Linked DNA regions of Homo sapiens. The protein of the gene in region 2 interacts with the protein of the main gene of each other region in a pairwise test. Each region holds a gene or a part of one and is shown on either strand. Other genes may lie near its edges.

Region 1 (3,780 bases), on a different chromosome or scaffold from region 2:
TCTCTCCCCTGACCTCCAGGTGGGCCCAGGACAGCCTGCACACAAAGGGTGGGTGGGCTGAGGTCTGAGGGCCTGGAGTGAGCACGGCAGCCCTGCCCCAGGCTGCTCAGGGACCGGCAAGGGGCCTCCAATGCCCTGAACGTCTGTATGAGGCGGCCCAGGCGGGCCTATCAGCCCAGCTGCAGGGTCTGCATGGCTGCCCTGTCCAGTGACACTGACGGGGTGGAGCTGGGCAGACAGAACCCAGGACTGAGCTCTGAGCAGGGGCTGAGACTGACCCCGCCTCATCCACCACGGGCGCCTGGTCGAAGCCCTTCTCCCGGAGGATCTCGATGGTGTGCCCACAGGTGATGGTCGGGAGCACGGTCAGCGGGGCTGACAGGCCCAGCTCCTGAACACGGAGGTGCCACCACCTGAGGGAAGAGGGCAGGTCGGGGGGATCAGGATAAGGACAAACGCTCTCGCACCCCCGCCGGCAGCACCTCAGCAGGAGGCCACAGGGACCGCTCTCCTGCCTGTCACACTGGGCAGGGCCAGCACAGGCCACGGGGACCGCTCTCCTGCCTGTCACACTGGGCAGGGCCAGCACAGGCCACGGGGGAGTGCTCTCCTGCCTGTCACACTGGGCAGGGCCAGCACAGGCAGCGGGTCTCCGGCCGAGCGGTCTTACCAGGGCTTCTTCTCCGTGAGGTCCTCCTCCTTCAGAAAGCCCTTCTGCAGCATCCACCTGTCGCTCAGGAACTTGGTCCTGCGGGATGGGGGAGTCACCGAGTCCCCGCAGGGCCCCACCGGGCCCCCGCCCCTGCTGAGTGGCACGCACTGCCTGCCCAGCCCCTCTCCTGGACCTCACTGGTGCAGCAGAGACCCCCAAGTGCTGGCTGGAAGCCCCAGGGGGAAGCCTGGGGGCTGGACTTCCCGCCCCCATGGCCAACAAGCGTGTGTGAGCATGCACACAGCCATCGCTCAGGCACTCAGATAAACACGTCCTCTCATGCTCGCTCTCTGCCCCTCACACACTCACACGCACAGGTACACATGGCAGGCTGGCCAAGTATGTGGGGAGATGGTGTTCTTGCACTGACGGGGGTGGGCAGGAGCCCTGCACAGGGCATCTTGACCCTGGGCACCAGATGTGAATCACCCCACACTGGGGAACCCAACTGGGGGCACCCACCAGCCAGGCCTGGCCCTCCAAGGGCAGCTGAGCTCTCGGGAGCTGTGTAGCCGCTGCAGCTTGCAGGCCATGGAGGAAACCCTGCAGGTGCAGGGGACAGGGCATGGGGGTCTGTAGACACCCGCCCTGGTACCGCCTCCGGAGACCAGGTGCAGAGCAGCGCCAGTCTCAGCCTGGCTGCCCGGTGACCAGCGAGGTCTGTGGCGTTACTGTCCGAGGGGCCTCTGGGCAAAACAGTCACAGCAAGTCCTAGGGGGCCACCTGGGCAGCACTCGGTCCCAATCTGGAGTTTGGGGGAAGCAGCAGAGGGAGTCAGGGTGGATAGGAGGTGGCACAGGGCCCGGCCCAAGAGGACGTCAGTCCATGTGGCCAGGGCTACCCGTTGGAGCTCACGGACCCCAGAGCAGTGAGGGGGACAGACACCAGAGAGGAAGGGACAGGAGGGACAGAGAGGGAGCCACCGTCTTTCATGCCCCTCCTGTCAGGGCTGTCACTGCGAGTGTGCATTGATTTTCACAGCATTAAGAGGCTGGGAAGCCCCACAGCGTGAGGGCACGTGGGCAGGAGAGTGGAGGCGGTGCTCACAGGGCCCCGCTGGCCTCCTCCCCTCCCAGTTCTGGCTGCCGGTTCTCAGGTGAGGCGTGAGAGGCATCCAGGGAAGGGTGGCAGGATGGAGAGGAGCAGGGACCTGGGAGGGAAGCCGTGTCTTACATGTAGTTCCGCACTGAGTCGGGCAGAATGACCACGCAGCGCTGGCCCTCCTGCAGCTCCTGCGCGGCCTTCACGGCCACCGCCACCGTGCTGCCAGCACTGCCACCTGCAGAGAGGGCCACGAGTCAGACGCGCCAGGGTGAGCGTGCGTGGGTGCACACGTATGCATGAATTGTGCACGTGCACGCATGGGAGCATGTCAGACACACTCCGAAGGATCCGTCAAGAGGGGTTGCCTCGGGGAGAGGGGCTGGGAGGACCCCACTTCTCCGTGAGCATCGGCTTCTTCCTTGTGCACCATGGAGTTTCTGTGTCCACTCGGGGCTTCATAATGAGCTGGGGTGGGCACTGGTGCCAGGGAAATGCCTGCAGTGGGGCTGCGGCCCCTGGCAAACCTCCTGGCCCTGAGCCTAGAGCCAGCGATGCTACGAGGACGGAGCCCCCAGCACCACGCCTGCAGGCTGCCTGACTGCACACTGGGCTCTGCTTTATAAACAAGAGACCAAGGCTCACAGTGACACCAGCTGTCCCTAGGAGCCCTGAAGTCAGAGTCAGAGGCGTCTTCTCTGGGCTTAGTTTGAGGGTGCACACAGCAGTCGGGAAGGTCTAAGTCTGCAGTAGGAGCCCCCACAGGAAGAGAGGCACCCTCCTCTGTAACGGGGCCCATGGACCTGCTTTCCAGCCCCAAAGGCAGGGGCTTGTTTCTCCACCAACATGGGGAGCAGGGAGACTGAGACAGGGAGAGCCCAACGATTATGGGCACCAAGTCACCTTTCGTGACAGATTCATCTGGAAAATGCTTTTCTTTTCTTTTTTTTTTTTTTGAGATGGAGTTTTTGCTCTTATCACCCAGGCTGGAGTGCAATGGCGTGATCTCGGCTCACTGCAACCTCCACCTCCCAGGTTCAAGCAATTCTCTTGCCTCAGCCTCCCGAGTAGCTGGGATTACAGGCATGCACCATTACATCGGCTACTTTTTTTTTTTTTTTTGGTATTTTTAGTAGAGACGGGGTTTCTCCCTGTTGGCCAGGCTGGTCTTGAACTCCTGACCTCAGGTGATCCACCCGCCTCGACCTCCCAAAGTGCTGGGATTATAGGCATGAGCCAACGCGCCTGGCTGGGAAATGGTTTTTCAATCAAGACTTTCTTCCAATCTCTAGTTTGGGGCTCAGCTAACGGGGGACTTGGCCATGCTGAGGGCTGGTTTCCTTCCACTTTCCCTGTCACCACCCCCAAAGTGACATGACACACGGAATGCACATGTAGAAACCTCACATGTCCCTGCCTGCGTTTTAGAAGCTGGTGTGTGCTCTCCGAGTCCCCAGAGGTCTAGATCAACTGTGGTCCCTACAGGGCCTCTGCTGCCTGTGTGGCTAGTCAGTGGCATTGCCAGCGGCCACCTGGTCTGTCCACCCCCAAGCAGGTGGGCAGAGGGGCACGGGGTAGGAGGAAGGTGAGCGGGGTCGAGCTGGACAGCCTCAGGCTCCAGTCCCCTCCCCAGCTGCTCCAGGGTGCTCGCAGCACCCAGTCCCGGCCATGGGCCCCGTCAATGCAGAGCCACCGCCCCAGGGGCCCTGGTGGACTTGATTAGAAACAATAAGTGCCATGAGAGCTTCAGCCTTGTTCTAGAAACACATTCTGGAAGGCAGCTCGAAGCCCCGCCCCATGGCCTCCTGCCCTCACCTGAGCAGGTGACCACACTGGGCAGGCAGACAACACCTGAGGCTCGTGGCCGCCGCAGTGACACTCCTCAGAACTGCTGTCTTACACATGCAGGTCGGTGGCTGACTGAGGGTGCGCCCCCAGCCATCCCCAGTGCCCCCTAGCCATCTCTGCCTTCCCCATACCCCCGTGCCCGCCACCCACTCACCGCACAGCAGCCCCTCTTGCGCGAT
Region 2 (3,035 bases):
ACTGTACCCAGCTGGACCAATTATGATCTTTTAAGTCCCAACCCTTCATTCCTTAACACTATCCATCAGACATAATCAGACAGCAAATAAGAAAGCATCTATAACCTTTCTACAATGTTCTTAGTTCCCGAAATTACCTGCAAAAATTAGTATAGCACCACTTAAGGTTATTTAGGGCAGATTATTCACAAATCTGTACTATAATGAAATAGTAACTTACTCAGGTACAACTGTTTCTTTGAACATACTAGCAGTTATGGCCCTGTATAAAGAAGGTATGACTTTTGATGAGAGAGGTTGCAATGATTACTCCAGGTGCAAAGCAGGTGAAGTAAGGACCCAAAGCAAGCAATGAAAAGACCTATCCAAAGTGAAACAAATATATGTAACTAGCAACTAATAAGGACTAGGGAAACGCTGACTCAGAAAACAAAAAGCCTGACAATGAATGTCAAAGAGAAATAAATATGTAACTAGCAACTAATAAGGACTAGGGGAACATTGATTCAGAAAGCTAAAAAGGCTGACAATGAGTAAAAGAACTCTTAATTTCCTTCCCCACTGTTGCTTATATTCCTAATAATAAATCTGTTCTATGAGGCAAATATCTAAGAAAATGGTGCTTAATATGAAGGCTAGGTCGAGCGCAGTGGCTCACGCCTGTAATCCCAGCACTTTGGGAGGCCGAGGTGGGTGGATCACGAGGTCAGGAGTTCAAGACCAGCCTGGCCAAGATGGTGAAACCCCGTCTCTACTAAAAATACAAAAAACTAGCCAGGCGTGGTTGTGGGCACCTGTAATCCCAGCTACAGAGGCAGAGAATCGCTTGAACCCAGGAGGCGGAGGCTGCAGTGAGCTGAGACTGCACCACTGCACTCCAGCCTGGGCAACAGAACGAGACTCCATCTCAAAAAAAAAAAAAAAAAAAAAAGAAGGGTATATACAGTGACCTAGGGATAAAGTTTTAAAATTTTCCTATCCAGCTCTAGCTTCAGAAATACTCATATAGTAGTAGTTCCAGGGTGAAATTCAGACATCTGTACTTTCAAAGATTCTCTAGTAATTCTGATATACCTTTCTCCAAATTAAAAATTAGTAATCTAATGGATAAGAACTAAAAAGGCATTTGTCCAAATTGTTGTCATATAGGTCATGATCAAGAACAGCCACATTATCAAAGAGCAAAAACAATAAAATACATACCATTAGCTACATATGTAATCTTGCATAGAATGTTGTCCCTGCTAATTTCCTGGTTTCCCTCTGGTGGGCTTACCAAGGTTTGACAAATCATAGCAACATTTATTTTGGCACGGACACATCGGTTGTTTAGCTGCCAAAACAAAAAACAAAGCATCAGTAGATACCCAGTATTTTGTAAACTCTGCTGGTCTAATATTATATTAGGTTAACCAAAATCGTAACTCTTAAAAGTATCTCCAGTGAAATCTTATAAGCACCAAGCTGATATGACACCAGGATTCCTCCCCACCCACTTTTTCTGGGGACAAGGTCTTGCTCTGTTGCCCACTCTGGAGTGCAGTGGTGCCATCATAGTTCACTGCAGCTTCAAACTCCTGGGCTCAAAGCAATCCTCCCGCCTCAACCTCCAGAGTAGCTGGGACCACAGGTGCACATCACCAGGCCTGGCTAATTAAAAAAAAAAAAAAAATTTTTTTTAATAGAGATGGGGTCTAACCATGTTGCCCAGGATCCCTTCCTCTTAAGTAGTAAATGGAGCTAAATTGTGGTAAACCACAGAGGTTTGGCTGGCAGTTGATAACGGCTTAAGAGATAACTGTGGGAAGTAGCCTACTGCCCAGTGTATGTACTGCCCTTTTGGCTGTTTCACGAAACATTAGAAGGAAAGGTAAACGGCCCTGGTGGAATGTTCATAGGCATGACTGTTGCCCTCAGACAACACATGGGCTATACTGTTCCTAGCAGTCAATCCAACATAAAATCTAAGAACCATTATCAAATCAAGTATAGTGTATGGGCTGTGTTTATCATTTTTGTCCCGCATTGTGTATTTAGCTTTATATTGTTTAATTATACACATTTATATACATGTACTTACAGGAGCACTGTCATGATCCACAGAAAAATTACAAACTATCCAAGTTTCAGGGTCATTTTCAGTCAAGGCTGGTATCTTTCGAATGACAGAAAGATATAATACGTCTCGCTGAGAAGCAGGCCACACCCTCTGTGGAGAAGTAAAAATCTTTTGAAAAACAGATCTAACATGGAACTAACAAGAGAAACGTAATGCCAATAAATGTCTTAATTGAAGGTAAAATCTCTCAAATTTTAAATGGAAAGCATCTGAGGATATCTACCAAATGATTAATTATGAACAGAGTTAATAGCTTTGCAGAACAATATAATAAAAGGAATAATGTTCTATTTTTTTAATTGCAGTAAAATATATACACGTATAATTTGTCATTTTAACTAACTTTTAGGGTACAATTCAGGGACATTAATTACATTCACAGTGTTATGTAACCATATTGCTATCTCTGAAATTTATCATCATCCCAAACAGAAACTCTGTACCCAGTAAGCAACAACTTTCCATTCCTCTCTCCTCATACTCCATGATTATGTTCTACTTAGATTCAAAGATTTAATGAAAAAAGACTTATTTGAATCAAATCACATTAGAAAGAATTCTAAGTCACTTAGATTAAATATTTCAATATTAAGGTATGCAAGGGGAAACATATACTATGGGAATGACATGGAGCCTAGGTCTTCAATAAATGGGACTACCTACTTTAAATGAGAAAAAAAACCTTTTATCCTATTTAAGTTACTTTTATTTTGGTTATCTCGTATATGTATCTGGACTAGTCCTTGTTATGCAGCGTCATTCCTGATTACTGAGAGTAATAAATAGCATACAATACAAATCATTTGCAAGATGAAATGATTCATTTTTTAAAGATACAAAATTTCATGTAGTTGATAAATATAGTGTTGGGTAAATTGTGTGGAGACAGTAAGTAATACATGAAGATTTGGCAAAT

What was found.
Region 1: the proteins of CERT1 (region 2) and CBS interact in a two-hybrid assay, tested with the Homo sapiens proteins (one large-scale study listed by BioGRID).

Annotation. Positions count from the first base shown.
Region 1 is NC_000021.9:43,058,556-43,062,335, forward strand, and holds part of CBS (cystathionine beta-synthase), read right to left. Parts: coding exon 3,756-3,780; intron 1,992-3,755; coding exon 1,886-1,991; intron 749-1,885; coding exon 671-748; intron 414-670; coding exon 279-413; intron 1-278. UniProt on the Homo sapiens protein: Hydro-lyase catalyzing the first step of the transsulfuration pathway, where the hydroxyl group of L-serine is displaced by L-homocysteine in a beta-replacement reaction to form L-cystathionine, the precursor of L-cysteine.
Region 2 is NC_000005.10:75,379,869-75,382,903, forward strand, and holds part of CERT1 (ceramide transfer protein), read right to left. Parts: intron 2,210-3,035; coding exon 2,081-2,209; intron 1,334-2,080; coding exon 1,204-1,333; intron 1-1,203. UniProt on the Homo sapiens protein: Shelters ceramides and diacylglycerol lipids inside its START domain and mediates the intracellular trafficking of ceramides and diacylglycerol lipids in a non-vesicular manner.